Linked DNA regions of Homo sapiens: region 2 is linked to region 1. Evidence: fine-mapped expression QTL. A gene starts in region 1. The other region holds a variant in brackets. All regions are shown on one strand. Distances are from middle to middle.

Region 1 (5,392 bases):
TATTCTTAAGGCAGCAGCCCCAGTGGTCCTCTTGAAATCTAAGCCAGAGTCAGTTCATGTCACTGCCCATTACAAAACTTTCCAGTGTTCCCATTTTAATTACAGCAAAAGATGTGGTCCATACAATGGCCCACAAATCCCTACATAGTCTGGCCCATTGACCTCTCTGTTTTATCTCCCAGGACTCTCTCCAATTGTCGCTTGGCTCCAGACATGGTGGCACCCTCTCCCCGCCTCCAACATGCAAGGAAATTCTTGCCTCAGGCCTTTGAAATAGCTGTTGCTTTAGCCTGGAATGTTTTTCCCTACCTATCTGTATAGTGAACTCTGTTACCTTCTGTAAGTCTTTGTTCAAATGTCACATTGACCACCATATTTGAATCGCCACCTACTTCAGCACTCCTATTCTTCCTTATCCAGCTCCACTTTTTCTTTATTCCCTCACAGCACTTACCACCTTCTCCCATAGTAAAATAATTTACTCGATTATTAAGTATATTGTCCTGTTGTCCTCTGCTGAAATGTAGACTCCATGGTAGCAGGCGTTTGGGTTTCATTTCCTGATGGATTCCAACTATCTTAGAGACTGGCTGAACATGGTATAGATTCAATAAATATTCATCAATGAAAGAATAAGTGGCCAAACTGATAGTGAAAATGGGTTAAATTCTATAAATACGTTAAAGATATAAGGGGCTGCAGTAGATACCTGCTGAGATAGAGAGGGTGATAAAGAGAGGGAGAGGAGGAGAAAGTAACTCCTGTTACATGGCTGAAGGTATTACTCTTCAAAGCATTGAATGCGAGGAAAAATACACTCAAGTTAGAAAAGAAAAAGAGCACTATTTACATGATCAATGTGTTTACTTTGAGAATAGGAGGCATTCGGTAGAAGATTGCTGAAAGTCTTCAAATTATGTTATTGATAAGGCTCTAGGCTTATTAATCACAAATGGACCTCTGCCATAACTTCCACCTTCTGAATTATTTATATATGTGTCCTTGGATGTCAAATAAACCTATGGTAGTAACTTTTTAAAATATTTCCTAAGGCAAAACATTACTAAGCATCTTTTTTTTTTTTTTTTTATCAAGGCCTGAGATTGAAGTTAGAAAATAAAGTTTAAAAATAGATATTTGAAAAGAATTGCATTTTTGTAATGACATTTTAAAGCACAGAAAAGCTGTGAATACTTTGTTTCAATCAGACCAAATTCACTTTTATAACAAATAAACTGAAAATTCATTAGGTAAAATCTTTCCAGGCATCCAGGCCTTGGGATGTTTCTCTCCCTTAGTTTCATTTCACTGGAAGGAATTCTGGCAGGCTCAGAAATCATATGAACTAACCAGGGGAGGGATGGAATCAGCCTTCATTGCCTGGTGGTTTCTCTCTGTGTGTATTGTGACATGCACACACGTGCAAATAGAGAAAACCTCCATTTAATTCCTTAAGCAATTGTAACAGGCAGGCATCATTTTCATTTAAGCATGAAGATTGGGACTCAAAGATTTGCATAACTTGGGGAAGGTCACACCGTATGAAGGAAACATATTCAAGCCCAGCCCAAACTTCAGTTCTCCCACAGCCAGCTGCCTCTCACATGAGGTCAAATTACCTGACATACATAGAGTGAGTTTGGAAACTTAATAAAAACTCTCCTCCTCTCAAATGTTTCCTCTACCTAAGTCCCTGGCGTTTGGCTCTGAACAAGTCCTTTGAGGGTAAGAGGTACTGATATTAGGAATACTTTCTAAGACACCACGCCAGTGCTTCCATTGTTAGCTTACAGTGCACACACATTCACGGAGTTTATCAGACTCCGTCCAGCCTGGGATACTCTGAGCCTCTAAGAGCCCAGGGAACTCAGACGGCAAAGTTGGAGTAGGAGACCAAATCACCCATCCTCATTCGTCATGCTGATTACTTTGCCTGCAGCTAAACCTGTCTTTAATTTTAAAATTAAATATTTTTAAAAAGTGTTTCTTCCTGTGGAATTGTGTTTTAGAAATTCTGATTTTCTTTTCCAATTTCCCTTGGAGATCAAATTTGAAGAAAATATTATTGAATACCTACATGATAATTTGCTACAGGTAATGTACAAAAGAGAATATAATGACATAAATATATTTGTGTTTATATTGTCATAAAACTCACCTTTCAGTTCTATTTAGTAAAAGCTTACCCTGTATATGGACCCATGCATGGATAGGACATGCTATCTGCTTTCTCATGAGGAGCAGAGGCACAGGTAACTTTGAGGCAGGGAGGTTGTGGTTATGCAAAGAAAGATGATAAAGAAGAAATGGGAGAGCTAGAAGACAAACAGCCATACGTGGTATGTGATAAAAAAGCTAAGTGAGCACATGGACAGAGTGCTAAAGCTCTAAGAGAGAGGAAATCTTTTTATTTCATGGTAGTAAAGCATTTACCACCTCATAATAGTTTTGTGACCTTATGAAAAAGGCTCGGGCTCTCTCAGCTCTGGTTTCCCCAGCTGTAAAATTGCAATGATAACAGCTTACCTCTGAGGATAGTTGTGAAGGTGAGGTGGTGAGCTAAAGAGCTAAGGAATCAATTAGTGGCTTTTATTATCATCATTATTGTTATTCAATGAGGAGATGATATTTGAGATAAGCCTTCCTAGAAAGAATATTTGAGGAAGTTTAGGAGAATGGGAAAGAGAACATCTATGTGGGTATGGGATGGTGAGGGGTGGAAAAAAATGGTGAACAGGTGGCATGTGCATTGTATGATTGGGAAAGGAGAGACGGGAAAGGAGCTGTCTGATTATGTCCTGGTTCCTGATGCCGGCTAGTGTGTGGTTAGGAGGGGATAAGAGGACAGGGCTAGTTTGGGGGCAATAGTTATATTATTTCTCATATGGCTTCTCAATTAACTTAGGATATTCTTCCTAAAGTGTTATCTCTGTCAGGAAAAATTGTGGAAAGACTTTGAAATGGATAAAATAATTACTAGGTGTCCTCTTTAGCTGCCTTTCCATTTTACCTAATTCTATAGGGGTCTGCACTTCTTTTGAACCATTTTATAAATCTGTAATGTGTAGAAAGCTTATGTGAATGCAAATGACTTTTTCCTAGGAATGCAAATAAACTTTGTCCAGTAGAATCAAATGTATTATTGCCCAGTAACTATTGACATCTTCTGTGTTTGTTTATTTCAGCATTTCTGATTGCACGGATGTGTGTGTTGTTTGAATCCTCCCTCATACTGATCGTAACATCTTACTGGTTCACTCATTACTTAAAGAAAATCTTTACATACATTCATTTTATATTTGTTAAGAGTCATATTTTATTGGGAGGTCGAGGCGGGAGGATCACGAGGTCAGGAGATAGAGACAATTCTGGCCAACACGGTGAAACCCCGTCTGTACTAAAAATACAAAAATTAGCTGGGCGTGGTGGCATGTGTCTGTAATCTCAGCTACTTGGGAGGCTGAGGCAGGAGAATTGCTTGAACCAGGGAGTCGGAGTTTGCAGTGAGCCGAGATCACGCCACTGCACTCCAACCTGGTCCTGGTGCCACTGCACTCCAGCCTGGCAACAGGGCCAGACTCTGTCTCAGAAAAAAAAAAAAAGAGTCATATTTTAGTTCATTATTTAATACCTCAGGGCATTTTGCTGAGCATAATTCCTTTCTGGAAGGTCACATGCATTCTGGCAGGGTGTGTCAAGAGGGGTGAAGAGGGGAATAGATGAGAGAAATAGTCTATTATACTAGCAGTCCCTATTGCCAAATCTTGCCAAATTGTCTTACCACCATTCCCACCCCCAAGTTGAAAAAAATAAGAGTTTTGAATTAAGATCTAGAGCTTTCTAATTTTTTTTCTTAAAGCGGGGTCTGCAGAAGAACAACACCATATATGCTGGGAACTTGTTGAAAAGGCAGAATCTTAAGATTCATTCCAGACATACTATATTGTAATCTTTACTTTAATGACATCCTCATGTGATTTGCACCCACTAAAGTTTAAAAAGTGCTGATCTAGAACAAAACAGTGAGACCCTGCAGCTCTCAGTTCACCACCTCTCTGCTTCCTCGTGCCTGGCTGAGACAGAGGTTCAGAGTCCATGCAGTGGCAATAAGAAAAGCCACGAGCCATGAGAGCTTAATTTTTTCTTTTATTAAATAAAGGAATCAGCATAATTGTAAGTCTCCAAAGTTTGAAACAGTTCAAGTTGAATGAGCGTAGAGACAAAAGATAATGGGATATATATATATATATATCCATATATATATATATTATTCTAGCTTAATGATGGGGATACATTCTGAGAAGTGCATCAGGTGATTTCATAATGGTGTGAACATCACAGAATGTACTCACACAGATCTAGATGGCATAGCCTACTCCGTACCTAGGCTGTATGGAATAGCCAATTACTCCTAGGCTACAAACCTGTACAGTCTGTTACTGTACTGAATACTGTAGGCAATTGTAACACAATGGTACTTGTGTATCTAAACATAGAAAGGTACGGTAAAAATATGCTATAAAATATAAAAAATGGCATACTTGTGTAGGGCACTTACCATGAATGGAGCTTGCAGGACTGGAAGTTGCGCTGGGTGAGTCAGTGAGTAGTGAGTGAATGTGAAGGCCTAGGAAGTTACCGTGCATTACGGTACACTTTATAAACACTGTTCACTTAGGCCACGCTACCTTTATAACTTTTTTCTTTCTTTAATAATAAGTTAACCTTAGCTTACTGTAACCTTTTTACTTTATAAGCTTTTTAAGTTTTAAAAAGTTTTTGACTTTTCTGTAATAACACTTAAAACACAAACACATTGTACAGCTGTACAAAATTAGTTTCTTTTGTATATCCTTATTCTAAAGCTTTTTTCTATTTTTAAATCTCTTTTTTTACTTTTTAAAGTTTTTGTTAAAAATGAAGATATGGACACGCAATAGCCTAGGCCTACACAGGGTCAGGATCATCAATATCACTCTCTTGTCCCACCTCTTGTCCCATTGGAAAGTCTTCGGGGCAAAAACACACACGGAGCTGTCATCTCCTGTGATAACAGTGCCTTCTTCTGGAATACCTCCTGGAGGACCTGCCTGAGGCTGCTTCAAAATAACTTATTTATAAGTACACTCTAAAATAATGATGAAAAATATAGTATAGTATTTATTTCATAAGCTAGTAACATAGCCATTTATTATTATGTACTGCACATAATTGCATGTGCTATAATTTTTTTACAATTGAAAATACAGTAGGTTTGTTTACACCAGGATGACCACAAACATGTGAGTAATGCATTGAGTTGTGACACGACAATGACTATGATGTCACTATTGATAGGAATTTTGTGGCTTTGTTTTAATCTTATGGGACCACCTTTGTATGTGCAGTCCAT
Region 2 (5,392 bases), 6.8 kb after region 1:
CCTTCTTTAAGATGCACTTGGCATAACAGAGCCAGCAGGTTGCAAATTATGGAATGTAGATTTTCATTATCGGGTCTGCATAATGTATAGCTTGCATTTAACAACCAGGTCTGAGGGTGGGTAGGAAGCATGTCAATTGTTTGGTGCGGTAACTAAGGCTTAACACTTTCTACCTCTGGTTTTTTTTATTGCTGTTGCCTTAATTTAAGCACATTTGCCGCTATATTTGCATTTTCTTCAGTTGCTCTTTTTTCTAGTGTATTACCATCATGGTCGCTGCCATTGACTATCAGCATCCTGTGGAAAATCATTTTAGAATCCTCCCAATGCTGGAGAGAGCAGAGATGTGAAGCCTGGCCATCCCCAACCCGGGCATGCCCAATGAGATGACTGGGAAGACCATGGCCTCAGTTTTTTCACTGGACAAAATGGGAGGAGGGGCAGTCGATGCTCATTTTCCAGTTCCTGCCTGACCCTCTCTGACCCTTTACTTTTTAAATCATTCATCAAATGACCATTTTAAAGTTTTAAAAAATTTTCAGTTCATCATTACTATCATTTTTCATCATATTTCACTGGGGCCTTATTCTTGCCAGGAAACTCTCTGCCCTAGTTCAAAACCTAGCTTACCACTTATGACAGTAGTCCCCCCTTATCTGTGGTTTCACTTTCTGTGGTTTCAGTTATCTAGTCAGCCACAGTCTGAAAATATCAAAAGAAAAATTTCAGAAAGAAATAATTCATATGTTTTCAATTACGCACTGTTGCTGAGTAGCGTGATGAAATCTCTCTCTGTCCCTCTCTATCCTGCCTGAGACGTGATGCATCCATGTGTCCGGCGTGTCTGCGCCGTAGACAGTACCTGCCTGTTAGTCACTTAGCAGCCATCTCGGTTATCAGACCGGCGGCCATTGTATTGCAGCAGTGCTTGTACTCAATTATTTAACTCAACTATTCTATTTTATTATTAATTGTTGTTAATCTCTTCCTGTGGCTAATTTATAAATTACACTTTATTATAAGGTATCCATATACAGGAAAAAACATAATATACATAGGATTCAGTACTATTTGTGGTTTCTGGCAACCACTGCAGGGGGGTTGCCTGGAATGTATCCTCATGGACTACTGTAGCTGGAAAATTGACTGAACTTCTAATCAGGGGTCATAGTCAAAATAGATAAAATTGTTGAGGCTCAACCAGTTCAAGCAGATGACAGCACAGCCCAGGAGCAGGTACTGGGAGTTCCTGCTGTACCAGGCGCTCAGCTTTGAGTCACTGGATCATGTGAAAGCAGGGAGGGGAACAGGCCAAGTGGGGAGCAGTCAAAGGAGGTGACCCAGAGGAGGACTTGGAGTAGCCAGAGTACAGGAGAGTGCTTGGGGGAATCAGGGTAGCAGATTTACCACAGATGCGGAAGCCACAGACTGTTAGTTCCGAGACTGATTAAGTCTCACCTGCCTCATACAAAATGGAAATTCAAATAGTGTTTATTGATAGGGTTATTATGGTGCTTCACGGAGATTTTGCAAGTAAAGCACATAGCATAAGGCCTGATGCAGCATAAGTGCTCAATAAATATTAGCCAATATTATTATCATTACCCGATTGTGTCTTCCATATCTCTTTTTGTGTTTCTTCATTGCTTTATCCTACCCACATGTCTATTCTGTGCATTTCTGGTTCTATTTCCCCATTTCTCTATTGTTCCTGTTTAAAGTTTTCTCATGTCCTTAATGTTGTTTCTGCCCTTTTATGTTTCTCTATTTTATTTCTCCTTTTCTGTTAGTATTTTGTCATGCATATCTCCCAAATTTATGTGGGAATGAATATGTGAATGGAATGGGAATATGAGGCACAAAGCAATTTTCAAAATAATGGATGCCTGCAAGTGAAAACGAAGGGAGGGGGATATTTCACTGGCACCATAACTGGGATTCACAGACTTTCTGCTGAGTTTTGAGGTTATGGAAAACCCATGTGCCTGTATGACAGAGTTCTGTCCATGGGAAAAAGGAGACTTAGAGGAGGGTGTCTGGGGTGTTGTGTCAGGGCCAGAGACTGAGCTACGGGCAAATAATACAGTAC[G/A]TTCCCAGACTTGCGTCAGAGCCCAAGAGGAAGGAAGAGCGCGGTGAAAGCTGAGGAAGTCATTTATGTAACGGACTCTGTGAGATCAGAGACAAGGAGTAAAATGCCTGAGCTCAAGTGACAACAAGCAACCCCAGACTAGAGACAGGATCCTTCTCCCCACTTCGAGCAGATCCCAGCATGAATCCTGCAGTATGGTGATGGCAAAAGTCAGTGCAGGACCACTGGGACTCCTGGAGCTTCTCACATCTCTGAGAGCACCAGCAGCAGGTATTTTGCTCAAAGCAGAGGTGTTCTCAGGGGGGGATGGTTTGACCAAATGTATCTACGGTGCCTTGTGGGAGTGGGCATAGCATGTGAAGACCAGAATAAAGACCTCGTAAGAGAAGTGGTTGTCAGCTGTCAATGATGCTCCAAATAACTGAAATTCATGGCGAGTTAGAGTCATGTGGGGTGATGCAAAGATTCTGAGGGTACCCGTGGAAGCTGCAGTCTAGCAGAGTGGGTTTTAAGCACTGAAGTTACCTCATTTGTGTCTACAGGCTGGGCTATGGGTTGGCTGTTTGACCCCCTCAAACCTCATGTTGAAGTTTGATTCCAGTGTTGGAAGGGGGTCTAATTCGAGGTGTCTGGGTAGTAGGAGCAGATCCCCATTAATAGATGAATGCCCTTTCTGAGGGGAGGGAGTGACTGAGTTCTCACCATGTTAGTTCCCATGAGAGACAGCTGTGAAAAAGAGCCTGGCACTATTTCTCCCTCTCTTGCTTCCTCTCCCACCATGTGATCTCTGCACAGCCAGCTCTCCTCTGCCGTTTGCCATGAGTGGAAGCAGCCTGAGGCCTCACCTGATGCAGATGCCACTGCCATGCTTCTAGTAGAGCCCACAGAACCATGAGCCAAACAAACCTTTCTTCTTATTGTTTTTCTTCCCAACTTTTGTTTTAGTTGGGAAATAAAGGCCCAGTGGAGTGTTTTCTCCACTGTGTTGTGACAGTGGGCCATGAACTTGCCTCATCTTCCTAATAGTTATCTACTACTTAATGTCCGAAGAAACATATGTATTGGCTTGACTAATGTTACATTTATGTTGTTAAGAAACATGTACTCAGGGGCTACATGTGCAGGTTTGCTACATGGGTAAATTTCATACCATAGGAGTTTGGTGTACAGATTATTTTGTCATCCAGGAAATAAGCATAGCATCTATAGGTATGTTTTTGATCCGCACCCTCCTCCTATCCTCCACCCTCAAGCAGGCTTTGGTGTCTATTGTTCCTTTCTTTGTGTACATGTGTACTCCATGTTTAGCTTTCACTTACAAGTGAGAACATGAGGTATTTGGTTTTTTGTTCCTGCATGAATTATCTTAGGATAATGGCATTCAGCTCCATCCATGTTGCTGCAAAAGACACGATCTCATTGTTTTTTAATAGTGGCATAGTATTCCATGGTGTATATATACCATGTTTTCTTTATTCAGTCCACTGTTGATGGGCATGTAGGTTGACTCCATGTTTTTGCTATTGTGAATAGTGCTGAGATAAACATACATGTCCATGTGTCTTTATGGTAGAACAATTAATATTACTTTGGGTATACACCGAGTAACAGAATTGCTGGGTCAAAAGGCTGTTCTACGTTAAGTTCTTTGAGAAATCTCCAAACTGCTTTCCACAATGGCTGAACTAATTTACATTCCCACTAACAGTGTATAAGTATTTCCTTTTCTCTCCAATAAACCTCTTGTCTTTATAAATTACCCAGCCTCAGATATTCCTTCATGGCATTTCAAAACAGACTAAGACATGGTGGTTGTCTGAAGTTATAGAGGCAGATACAAAAAGGAAAATTATGCTAATTACTACTTCTAACCTCATCCCTCACTCCACCTTTCAGAAATTAGGATTAAGTATGTCTGGGGCAAGGCCCAGGAATCTGAACTTTTAACGAGTACACCATCCTCCCCTTCTGTTCCTATCCTAGATCCTTAGAATATACACAAAGTTTTCATGGACCACACATTATGAAACACTGGATTAGCGCAAAGTGAAATGCTTCCAGAGTAGGAGCCACTATTCTGAGGAATCTTGGAAGAAAAAGTATCAAAATATGTTACTATGTTTTGGGGGGATAGAGACAGAACTTAAAATTGATTGAACTCCAAATATGGCCAATTTTTTGGATGATTTAATCTTTCCCTAAAGCTCTTTGTTTACCCATAAAATGTGAACTTTCCTTGACTTTGACTGGGTATGGAGTAGATTGATGGTATTGACTGATATTTTTGAGTGTGTAGTTTGTGGTTTTATGAGGCATTTTTATATTGTCTTTACACTTTTGGAAAGTATATGCAATTGCTAAAACTTCAACGTTATCTTTTTCTTTTGATGAAATAGAAAACATCGCCCATTTCATCTGTTTCTTCAGTCCCCAGATAGCAGATGACTGGTAGGAAGATGAGGCAAGTTTGCGGTCCATTGTCATGGATAGTGGAGACAACACTGGGCCAGAAGTGGTAAGACCTGAATCCAAGACTCAGCTCTGCCACTTGCTAAATGGGACTTTGAATAAACCATTTCTCTGCACTTAAGTTCCTTACCAACAAAACGAGGGAAGTGGCCTACATGCCTAGATATCAACATTTCATGTCACGTAGAGATCTAGCATCACAAGAATCCAAGTCATCCTCTGTTGCCTTTAAGGTAAGCGCTGTTGAAAAATAATCAGCTATCAGAGTGCTCAATTCCAGTCTTCAATTACGTAAAGAAAACCAATACCGTATACCTCTTGGCCTGCCCATTTCAGGACAGGGTGGAGGAGGCAGAAGGAAGTGGGAGTTGCACTGGGGAGGGAGAGAGACTAGCTCTTCCAGCTGCTCTTATGATGAGGAAATAATTACTTAATGGCTAGGCAATTTGTGAAGCAGCTGCTGGTGGTTTGGGGACCCAGCTGTTCCAAAAAATAAAAAGAATTGGGTTTTCTCTTTCCATATCCTTCCCATAGTAGACAAATTAGATATGTAGTTTCAAAATAAATGATTAATTCCTACTGAGAAATGTTCTTTAGAATCCCTTGTTGAGTAAGAGTCTAAAGGATTGGTTAAGTTTCAATGCTCACATTTAAAAATAAATCTTAAAAGTATGAGAATTTGAGAGAAATCTAAGCTCATCGGAAATGTATACCAAACCCTCTACCTGATGTTGCTATAATTGATAGTCATTTTTTTTAATCCCTGAGGTAAAATAAAATCAAACAATAACATGCCAGAACAACTGTCTCTTTTTTCTGGCTACGGAGTGTGGA

What was found. PIP is the estimated chance that this variant, and not a neighbour inherited with it, causes the effect.
Region 2: its variant is fine-mapped to the expression of LINC02207 in whole blood (TOPMed, PIP above 0.99).

Annotation. Positions count from the first base shown.
Region 1 is chr15:93,854,051-93,859,442 of GRCh38, forward strand. LINC02207 (long intergenic non-protein coding RNA 2207) reads left to right here and starts at 2,510. Exons shown (of 4, transcript NR_120321.1): 1 at 2,510-2,546.
Region 2 is chr15:93,860,858-93,866,249 of GRCh38, forward strand. It overlaps LINC02207 (long intergenic non-protein coding RNA 2207), which reads left to right. Exons shown (of 4, transcript NR_120321.1): 2 at 4,517-4,791. Among named protein-coding and RNA genes, the nearest start is that of LINC02207, 7.0 kb to the left of the region's middle. The variant G/A (reference allele first, on the strand shown) is at 2,090.